Linked DNA regions of Homo sapiens. The protein of the gene in region 3 purifies or fractionates together with the protein of the main gene of each other region. This does not show direct contact. Each region holds a gene or a part of one and is shown on either strand. Other genes may lie near its edges. The genes, in order: DNAJC2, VIPR2 and MZT2A.

Region 1 (3,648 bases), on a different chromosome or scaffold from region 3:
GTTAAGAGGAGAAACAGAAATGCTTCTGCCTCTTTTCAGGAACTGGAGGATAAGAAAGAGTTATCCGAGGAATCAGAAGATGAAGAATTGCAGTTGGAAGAGTTTCCCATGCTGAAAACACTTGATCCCAAAGACTGGAAGGTATTTAATATCTGAATATTTTGTTCAGTCAGATGCTTTGTTAGACATAGACAATTTTCTTATGAGTTTTCCATTAATAAACATGTTTTAAGATGATTCAGCAAGATAACTATGATTTAGCATCTGTTTATTACTAAGTCTTGAGAGCATTAGCACTAGCCATGAGATACTGTCTCTGCTGGAGAAATCCAGGAAGAGTTCACAGAAAAGATAATGTTTGCACCGGTCTTAAAAGGACAGGCAGCAATTAGTGAAGCAGAGAAGTGAGAAAAGTATTCTGGGCAGAAGGAGTAAGATATACAAAGACACAAAGGAGTAAAAGAATATGTAGTGCCTCTTGAGGAATTGATAAGTCGTATAGGGTACATGCGGTATGGTGATGAGAAATCTAGTGTCTTTAAAAGGACACTAGACCAAACTCTGTTGTGTCCTTTTTATACCATGCTAAAGAAGGAATTAAAATTTATTTTTGGGACAGTAAGATACCATCAAAAGTTTCTTAGCTAATTTTAGAAAAGTAATTCCCTTGGCAGTACAGGAAATTGCTTGAAAGGGGGCAAGGGACTGGAGGGGAAGTGAATAGTTTACTGTTATAGGGCTAGTGCACTAAGGCAGACCTGTGACTGAATCCTTGAACTTACTATGTGGCTGGGTTTTGAGGAAGAGGGGTCAGATTTGCCTTTTTTGGAGGTAGCATTAACAGGCTTTGGTGACCCTGGCTGTGTGGCACAAGACAAAGAGAAGTATTCAGAGGTCCTTCCCAGCATTAGCGCTTGAGTGACCTGCTAGAGTGTGTGGTCAGTAACCAATGCTGGGATGAGGATAAGAATGTTTGTGGGAGGTGCTGTTTGTGTCCAAGTTTGACTATGTGAAGACTGAGGTTTTGGTACCATAGTGGTGAAGCTGTCTAGTAGATGGTTAGAAATTGGTCTATGACTCCAAAAAGAGGTTACAGCCAAAGACTTTTTGAAGTCATTGGCACATAGTGGTGGTTGCTGTGAGGAATTGAATGACAACAGCAAGGGACAAAAGTATAAACAAATAGATAATGCTTTAGTAGGTACTTGTATAATAGTTAAATGCGTATGCTGTGGAATTGGAGTGCCTGAATTCAAATCTGGTTCTGCCATTTGGTGCACTTCGACCTTGGGAAAGTTCCCAGATATGTGTGTACCTCATTTCCCTTGTTGCTACAGTGAGATTGTTAACAGCTCAAAGGTTTACCTTGAGGATTAATAAAAGGATGCTTATAAAGCACTTAAGTTAGTACTTGCTGCATGATAAATGCCAAACAAATAATGGATAATAAGAGTTCCTATGTCATTGGTTGTTTAGAGGACTAAATAAGCTAAAGCATATGTATAAAACATTTAGAAAAGTAAGCACTCAGAAAGTGTTAGCTGATTCTCCCACCACCTCATCCATTTTAAAAGAAAAAGACAACATTGGGGAGCATGGATATTTAAGGGGTAGGAAGAGGAGGAAAAACAGCAGAAGATACTAAGAAGGGTGACAGAAGTAGAAAGAAAACAAAGAAAAAGACACTTTGTTATTTGAAGAAATACTTCCTAAACATCAGGCAGCGTATTCTTCCAGAAACTAAGGGAGGAGCAAGAGGGAAAAAGAGGCAGGGTGCAGTGGCTCATGCCTGTAATCCCAGCACTTTGGGAGGCTGAGGCGGGCAGATCACCCGAGGTCAGGAGTTCGAGACCAGCCTGACCAACATGGTGAAACCCCATCTCTACTAAAAATACAAAATTAGCCAGGCGTGGTGGCACATGCCTGTAATCGCAGCTACTTGGGAGGCTGAGGCAGGAGAATCACTTCAACTCAGGAGGTGGAGGTTGCTGTGAGCCGAGATCATACAATTGCACTCCAGCCTGGGCAACAAGAGCAAAACTCTATCTCAAAAAAAGGGGCGTGGGAAGAGTCACCTGTGTCACTGCTTCAGAAAGAGGTCAATCACATAACATGAAAAATTATTTTAAAAAACACTGGACCGGGCATGGTGGCACATGCTTATAATCCCAGCTACTCAGGAGGCTGAAACAGGAGAATCGCTTGAACCTGGGAGGTGGAGATTGCGGTAAGCTGAGATCGTGCCACTGCACTCCAGCCTGGGCAACAAGAGTGAAACTCCATCTCAAAAAAAAAAAAAACCATTGGATTTGGCAAACTAAAAGTTTCGGTGTCCTCATTGAAAGCAGTTTGAGTAAAATGATCGGGAAGGCAAGAGATTACAGTGAATGAAGAGTGATTAGGAAGTGATGAAGTAGGATCAAAGTGTAAAGTACTCTTTCAAAGCTGGGTAGTAAAGAAAATGAGAGAAGATAGTAACTTCAGGAGAAGGCAGAGTCGGGAAAAGACAGAACTGGGGAGTGTTGAGATCTATAAGAGGGAGAAGGTCTTTGGTATAGAAAGAAGTAGATTGTATCAGAGTAAGGTAGCAGAGTTCATTCACTTGTTCAGTTTATTTTCATTCATCAAATATGGATCAAACACCATGTCAGATACTGTTCTAGGTGTCAAGGATACTGTACTGAACAAGACAGTATTACTGCTTACACACAGCTTATATTCCAGTGACATAATAAGTAAACAAGAACATGTAGCCATAAGTTCCATAGGATGGCCATAAGCTATCAACAGGTGCTAAGAGAAAAAAGGGGTCTTTGGTCAAGTAAGTTTGGAAAATGCTAGGTTTTACAGGTTTCTGTTTGTTTATTTTTTAAATCTAATTACAGGACTTCTCAGAGCCTTTCTTAGGCCTTTGTGCATACAAATCATCAAGGAGGCTGTATAATAGTCCACATTTACCTCTTTTTTAAATTTATTTTTTATTTTATTTTATTTTGAGACGGAGTCTCACTCTGTTGCCCAGGCTGGAGTGCAGTGGCGCAGTCTTGGCCCACTGCAACCTCCGCCTCCCAGGTTCAAGCAATTATCTTGCCTCAGCCTCCCGAGTAGCTGGGATTACAGGTGGGCGCCACCACGCCCGGCTAATTTTTGTATTTTTAGTAGAGACAGGGTTTCACCATGTTAGCCAGGCTGGTCTCAAACTCCTGACCTCATGATCCACCCACCTCAGCCTCCCAAAGCACTGGGATTACAGGCGTAAGCTGGCATGCCCAGCCTGTCTCTTCTTTTTTTTAAAGACAGGGTCTTGGCCGGGTGCAGTGGCTCACACCTGTAATCCCTTGGCCCTTTGGGAGGCCAAGGCAGGTATATCACCTGAGGTCAGGAGTTCGAGACCAGCCTGACCAACAAGGTGAAACCCTGTCTCTACTAAAAATACACAAATTAGCCAGGCGTGGTGGTGTGCACCTGTAATCCCAGCAACTTGGAAGGCTGAGGCAGGAGAATTGCTTGAACCCGGGAGGCGGAGGTTGCAGTGAGCCAAGATGGCACCACTGCACTCCAGCCTGGGCAACAGAGCAAGACTCCGTCTCAAAAAAATAAAATAAAATCTTAAAATCATTAAAAAAAAAAAAAAAAAGACAGGGTCTT
Region 2 (4,175 bases), on a different chromosome or scaffold from region 3:
GACAGATTACAGATAGATGATCGATAGGAAGATGATAGATGATAGGTACATGACAGATCGATAGATGATACGTAGATGATGGATAGGTAGATGATAGATAATGTGGATGATAAACATCAGATGATAGAAAAATCGATATCTGTGAATACGGGGGGTGGGGGATCAGAGAGAAGCAAATGATAAGCCCAATGAGGTAAATGTTAATGACCGAATCCACAAAAAGGATAAAAAGGAGTTATTTGTAATATTCTTATTCTTCTAATTTTTGTGTAAGTTTGAAATTATTTCCAAATAAAAAATTAAAACAACACGAACTTAACTTGTATCTCTCATTCCAGTGCTTTCCACTTGCTGGGGAACGCCGAGCTCTCCTGGGTTGGTCACGCGGGCGCCTTGGGAGGCCGCGCAGTCCCGCGTGGGGCGCGGCGGGGCGGCCCCAGTGGCACCGCGTGAGTCCCCGCCCAGCGTTCCCCACCCGCCGCCGCGTTTGCGGGGAGAGAATGACCCCCGTTTTGCAAACGCAGGACACAAAACCCGCCACCCAGCTGAGGCTGGGACCCACCTATACCCCCGTCTGCGTTTTTCTCCAGCTTTCTGTTCGACCTGATGTCCTCTTTGAGGCTGCGGGGATCCCCACCAAAAAGCACTCTGATTTTCTCCATTTTCAGATGCCCCAACCTAGCCCCACTGGCTACAAAGACGGCGCGCCCACCCCGGACGGGTCTCTGGCCGCTTTCTTGGGCTTCCGCAGTTGTTTAGAAAGGCAGGTACAGGCGGCCGCAAAGGCATCCGCCCCTTCCGAGCGCACACCTGGCCCGGTCCTCCTCTCCCGGCCCCGCGCCGGCCGCTCTCCCCCAGTTCTCTCTACTCGGAGCCGGGCGCGCACTGAGCACCCCGCTTCCCAGCCCCTCCGCCCACAGATCGGGGAGGCGCGGCCGGGAGGGGGGCGTGGGCCAGGGAAGAGGGGAGGAGAACGGAGAGAGAGGCTGGGGGGGTCGAGGAGACCAGAGGGAGCGCGCGCGGCGGGGACAGAGAGCCCAGGGGCGAGGAGAGGGCGCGGGGCGCAGCGGAAGGGGAAGTGGGGGGCGGTGAGGAGGGGCGCGGAGCGGGGGTTCTCGGGGGAGGAGGGAGACGAGGATTGGGGCAGCGCGGGGCGGGGACAGGGGCGGGGGGCGGAGCGGCGGGGCGCGTGGGGGACGGGCGTGCATTGAGCGCGCTCCAGCTGCCGGGACGGAGGGGGCGGCCCCCGCGCTCGGGCGCTCGGCTACAGCTGCGGGGCCCGAGGTCTCCGCGCACTCGCTCCCGGCCCATGCTGGAGGCGGCGGAACCGCGGGGACCTAGGACGGAGGCGGCGGGCGCTGGGCGGCCCCCGGCACGCTGAGCTCGGGATGCGGACGCTGCTGCCTCCCGCGCTGCTGACCTGCTGGCTGCTCGCCCCCGTGAGTGCGCCCGCGACCCCCGCCCCACGGCGCCTCGGACCCGGTTCTCCCCTTCCGAGAAGAGCGCTCCTCCCGCCGGTCTTCGCCTTCCTCCCGGGTGCTGGAGCGCGGGCGGGGTCCGGGAGAGGGAGCGGGGTCGCCCGGGGTCCGGAGCTTCCTCCCGGAGAGCGTGAAGCGCTGAGCTCCGGTCCCGCCGGGTTGCGGGACTCGGGTTGGGAGGCTGCCTGCGCCCTTCCCCGCGCCCCACCGTCCGGGGTTTGCTGGAAACGGGATCGTTTCTTCCTGGACGCGTCAACGATGAGCTCGTTCGGGGCCGTCCCGGGAGCTGGGAGCTGCGGGCGCCTGCGCGGGCTGCGCGTTTCACGGGGAGATCGGGGTTGGCGTTGGCCGCAGATGCCTCTCGGTCCCTCCCTGTACTTACTGGTTAGTTTTAGTGTCGGGGGGACGTGGCGTCGGTTAAATAAAGTTTCCTTTTGGAAATAGTTGCTTTTTCCCAAGGGCACTGGAGGAACTAACTGCTCATAAGTTTGTTGATTAAGTGCCTTCGCACATGGAGTTCTGAATTATTCCCTCTGTGAACCTTAAAAAAAAAGGAAAGAAAAAAGAAAGAAAAAAACCCGAGCCTTGTTTCTTGCTTTCCTCTTGGAGACTGAAGCGGGTTTGCGGTGCGCGCGGTTTTCGTGCGCGTCGCAGCCGAGGCAGGTCTGGATCGATCCGCGGCCCCTCCGCAGCTGGGAGGCTGCGCTGCTGACCCGACAGTGTCATTGATTAACCGGCGACGCCCGGTCTGCAGCGGGGCTCGAGCCACACTCCCTGGCCTTGCGCGGAGGCGCAGCTCGGCTTTCCTCCCTCGAGGGTGGGCGCTTTGCGGAGCGGGTCCTTGGAAAGTAACGGGTTTTATCACGGTTAATGCTGCTTTCATTGCTAAAATGTCCTAAAAGAAGTCATTGCTGTGCATATTCCAGGAACGTCAGGTATTATTAATGTCTTTTACACTTTAACAAAGTTTTTCTTTTTACATCAATATAATTTCCTTAATTCTGAAATTTAAGCCACTTACTTGTCCTGCATGAAAACAGAGGACTTGGAGCCCAAAGTCAGTGCCTGGTGCTGGTTCAGTCACGAGCAAGAAGCAAGCTCGGGGCTCTTTTAAATGGGGCTGAAGGTGGCAGAAGTTCCAGCATTGTTTTCCCCTTAATTCTGTTAGGATATTGTGTTCCTGGTTGGAACTCTCATTGACCATTTCAATAGTAAGATAACTAAACATAGATGGCCATAGTACGCCCAACAGTATGATTCTCTTTAGTTACTACTTTAGTACAAGTAGAATTTTGGTCGGTGGTGGGGGAGGGGGAAGATCAAGACCAAAAGGATGGGTGGGGGGAGCCCTCCTTAAGCCCCCAAGGGCCGCTTGGCAGGCCTGTGCTGACTTCGCGGAGGGCGTGAAGAACAAGGTAGAAACGGTGCCTTCTGAGAGGAAGCATTGTGTAGTTCTGCCTTCTTCTCACATTAGTAGACTGTTAATTACTATCTTTGTGGCACCTTTCGCTCCCCTGATGGATCCTGACTGGAAATCGCCCCCTCTTCTCTGTGGGGCCACAATGGTGTGATTCCCCCACCTCTGCCTCCCTCCTCATCTTGCTGATTTCTTTGAATATCTCTTCCACCCCAAATTCTAGTCAAAACGATTGCAGTTTTATCTGTAGTTAGAGGGTTAAGCTTTGAACATGTACCAACACCTTTAAAAATAAAGCCCTTCTATCACGGCTCTTTCCCGGGTGGAGGCCGTCCTCGGAGGAAGCGGCACAGTCCACAGGCATCCGCTTAAACCAAACCAAAGGGTGTGAAACGGAGGAGCCGGGTATGGAGAGATGAATGGAGTAAAGAGCTCTGTTGCCTCCAAATTAGTACCGATGTATTCTGTTAGTAAGTTCATTTTCCTGCTCAGAAAAAAAATTCTATTAGATTTTGTGTTTGTTTTATAATACCTTTACAAAGTAAATAGTGAAGTTTTTAAAAAATGCCAGAAAAATCAAGGTGATTGGTTTTAAATGCATTTTGGTTTGGAAGCAGTTTAAAGCTGTGAGGTTTGGGGTTGTTTTTGTAGAATTTTTGCTTGCTTTTCTTCTTCTTGTGGAATTTTTAGTTATTAATATTTCTTTTAACCGTGAACAGGTGAACAGCATTCACCCAGAATGCCGATTTCATCTGGAAATACAGGAGGAAGAAACAAAATGTGCAGAGCTTCTGAGGTCTCAAACAGAAAAACACAAAGGTAAGGCAGAGGCTTGGTGAGTAAGAACTCCCGTGACATTCTCACCCGGGAATGCGCCTCACTCAGCTGTGGTTCAGGGTCACCACCTGCATCTTAAAAAAAAAAAAAGAAAAAGAAAGGCCACTTCCCATTGTTTGTTAATGAACTACTGGTAAAACTCAGAGAGAGTTGGATAGGTAGGGTCTTCACACACACCTTTAAAAAGATAACCTTAATCCTTAGCAGTAACAGTTTCCATGGTTTGAGATGATAGCAACAGTTACTAAAACAATTTCATGGGCTTTGTTATGCTTTGCAAAAGCAGCTTCAGTTTTCCAGGGGATAAGCATTTATCTGAATTCTTGCATTTTAAATTCTTAGCTATAGGACAGATGATTTTGATCTGGTTAAGGATGGTGGGTACTTGGCAGAAAGCAAACAGGAAAATGGGACTTTGGTTGTGCTGAAGACGGGCCTGCGGT
Region 3 (3,117 bases):
GGGCCAGCATCCTCCTCTGAGGCCACAGTCCCTCTGCAGGCCAGGCCAGACAGTCAGATCTTCTGTAGCCGCAGCCTAATCTGGGTGCTTAGGTGCCCATGCGCTCTCAGCTCCCCACAGCACGCAGCATGGCAGGCCGTGCACCTAGGCCTGACTCAGAGTCGGCTTCCCTTCAGTTTGCCGCCATCTGAGCTTCCTCTCCTCCCCTCAGTAGTGACCCAGTCCCTTCTGGAAACAAGGATGACAGCGAAGCAGAAAAGAGCAAATAATGCTTTTTTTTTTTTTAAGAGTGGTGGGGGAGGGGGGTTTAGAGACTGAGTCTTGCTCTGTCACCTGGTCTAGAGCACAGTGATGCAATCACAGTTCATTGCTGCCCGGAACCCATGGCCTCGAGGGATCTTCCTGCCTCAGCCTCGATGTAGCTGGGACTACAAGCATGGGGCCACACCTGGCTAATAATGCTTATCTTTAAATCTGACAGGGTTGACAAACCCTGGAAATGTGAAACCAACATAACCGTAAGCCATAACTGATATTAAGAAAATCCTGGAAATCTTCAGGAATTGCGTGCTCTCGGGGCTAGTGGGGAGCCCTGTTCAGGCCTCCTCACTTTATGAAGGATGAGAAGGCCCAGAATAGAATGGCCTGCAGTGCCTTGCAGTGGGGAAACCAGCTTTGCTTAGCCCTGCTCCCTCGGGAGGGGCTACTGAGTCAGACGGGCTAGACAGTGGGATTGAACCAAGTGTGGCTGCAGGTTGGGGTGTGAGGGCAGGGTGACTGATGCCCCTACACCTGGTCCCTGGAGGGCCCTCCTAAACGCCAAAAACAGTCAATGACCACTGAATGTTAAAAACAGCCTGGCTCAGCAGGGGTCAGTGGCTCGTGCCTGTAATTCCAGTGCTTTGGGAGGCCAAGGTGGGAGGATCCTTTGAGGCCAGGAGCTAGAGACCAGCTGGGACAACATAGTGAGACCTCCATCTCCACAAAAAATTTAAAAATTAGCCAGGTGTGGTAGTGTGCACCTGTAGTCCCAGCTACTCAAGAGGAGGTGGGAGGATTGCCTGAGCCCACGAGGTTGAGGCTGCAGTGAGCTATGAGTGTGCCACTGCACTCCAGCCTGGGTGACAGAGCAAGACTGTCTCAAAAATAAATAAATAAATAAAAAGTAAAAGAAAATGCACAATTAGCTCAAATACTTTAATTAATCTAAAATATCCAACGTATTATTTCAATATGTAGTCAGTACATAAATTATTCATAAGATGTTGCATTCACCTTTGTTCTTTTTCTTGTTTCTTTGTAGAAATGGGTGGGGTCTTGCTATGTTGCCCAGGCTGGTCTCAAACTCCGAGCTTCAAGTGATGCTCCTGCCTCAGCCTCCAAAAATGTTGGGATTACAGGTGTGAACCAATGCCCAGCCTCATTCACTTTGGGGTTTTTTGTTTATTTTTGAGACAGGGTCTCACTCTCTCACCCAGGCTGGAGTGCAGTGGTGCAGTCACAGCTCACTGCAACCTCAACCTCCCAGGCTCAAGCAATCCTCCAACCTCAGCCTCCCAAGTAGTTGGAACTACAGATGTGTGCCACCATGCCCTGCTAATTTTTGTATGTTTTGTAGAGATTGGGTCTCCCTGTGTTGCCCTGGCTAGTCCTGAACTGCTGAGCTCAAGAGATCCAGCAGCCTCGGCCTCCCAAGGTGTGGTGGGTTTTTTGCATTCCCTTTTGTACCGGTCCTTTGGCATCTGCTGCGCATACCACACGCAGTGCAATGACCACGCCAGCCATGTGTGGCTCGAAGTTCCTGTATCAGGCAGCACAGCTCAGGTGAGACTCACGGCTTCCACACTCCAAACGTCATCTTACACGCATGCTCTGGACAACTTTTAAAACGTATAGTTTCCCTAAACTTAAATATAACGCTTGACTGAATTTATTTTTCCCTCAATGACTCCAGACTCTCACCAAGACAAGCATCGACCCTCTGTGCTTCTGGGGTTTTCTATTTCCCCTTCCCTGTGGGTATGAGTGAATCTGGTGGTGGTTGTTCCCACAGGCCGTCTGCATGGCTGGGGGACAGGCATCCAGAGGACCCAGGGTGCCTGCTGCAGCTCACAGAGGCAAGCTCGAGAGGGCCTGGCCCATAGCCTGGAGAACTCAACACCCGAGTCCTGTGGGAAACCTATGGCCTCCATGCCCCTCCCCCCGGATTACTCCGACAACCCCCCTGCCATATGGGGTGACAGAATCCTCCACCCCAGATTCTGCCATTACCAGGGCAGCTGGAGCTCTGTGTGGTCAGAAGCTGTAATATGTGGGCCTCAGAGAGCTCTCAGCATTCCATCTGTGGCCTCTGCCTCTCACTCAGCAGCACACGTCTGCCCCATTCCCCTCCACCTCCTCCTCAGGTTCCACTCTATCCCCATGGGGCCTCGGTGCCCTCATGTCGTGGCTTTCTGCCACCCAGCCTACAGGACCTGGGCTATGCTTCCAGGACACAGCCCTCGAGAAACAAATGACCCTGAGGGGCCCAGCACTCCAGGCCACTCCTGTCCTCGGGTAAATTCTCTTGGAGCCCCCATTCGCTCACATGGCACCCCCTAATCCTCCTGGCCCCTCTATGCCTGCATTTCCAGTGCCACAACCCCCACATACATCTTGACTGTGCCCCCCCACCTGCCTCCTCCTGCCCTGGGCCTACCAGCACCTGGACAGCGCTCTGCCTCTCCCATGCCCTCCCACTGCCCCAGCTCACACGTGTGGGGCTCTGCTGACCCTTCCTGCTCCACCCTGTGTAACCCTTGCTGCTCTCTGGGCTCTGAAGCCTCCTCCCAACTCCATTGCTAGTGGTTTTTCTTTTCCTTTCTTTTCTTTTTTTTTTTTTGAGACAGGGTCTTGCTCTGTTGCCCAGGCTGGAGTCCAGTCACAAGCTCTTGGCTCACTGCAACATCCCCCTCAGGCTCAGGCAATCCTCCCACCTCAGCCTCCCAAGTAGCTGGGAATACAGATGGGCGCCACCACCACGCCCACCTGGCTAGTTTTTTTTTTTTTTGAGATGGAGTCTCGCTCTGTCACCCAGGCTGGAGTGCAGTGGCGCAATCTTGGCTCACTGTAAGCTCC

The links.
Region 1: the proteins of MZT2A (region 3) and DNAJC2 purify together in Homo sapiens (co-immunoprecipitation; one large-scale study listed by IntAct). This does not show direct contact.
Region 2: the proteins of MZT2A (region 3) and VIPR2 purify together in Homo sapiens (co-immunoprecipitation; one large-scale study listed by IntAct). This does not show direct contact.

Annotation. Positions count from the first base shown.
Region 1 is NC_000007.14:103,338,257-103,341,904, reverse strand, and holds part of DNAJC2 (dnaJ homolog subfamily C member 2), read left to right. Parts: coding exon 1-141; intron 142-3,648. UniProt on the Homo sapiens protein: Acts both as a chaperone in the cytosol and as a chromatin regulator in the nucleus.
Region 2 is NC_000007.14:159,141,985-159,146,159, reverse strand, and holds the start of VIPR2 (vasoactive intestinal polypeptide receptor 2 isoform 1 precursor), read left to right. Parts: upstream 1-1,292; 5' UTR 1,293-1,388; coding exon 1,389-1,439; intron 1,440-3,614; coding exon 3,615-3,714; intron 3,715-4,175. UniProt on the Homo sapiens protein: G protein-coupled receptor activated by the neuropeptides vasoactive intestinal peptide (VIP) and pituitary adenylate cyclase-activating polypeptide (ADCYAP1/PACAP).
Region 3 is NC_000002.12:131,486,334-131,489,450, forward strand, and holds part of MZT2A (mitotic-spindle organizing protein 2A), read right to left. Parts: intron 1-3,117. UniProt on the Homo sapiens protein: Required for the recruitment and the assembly of the gamma-tubulin ring complex (gTuRC) at the centrosome.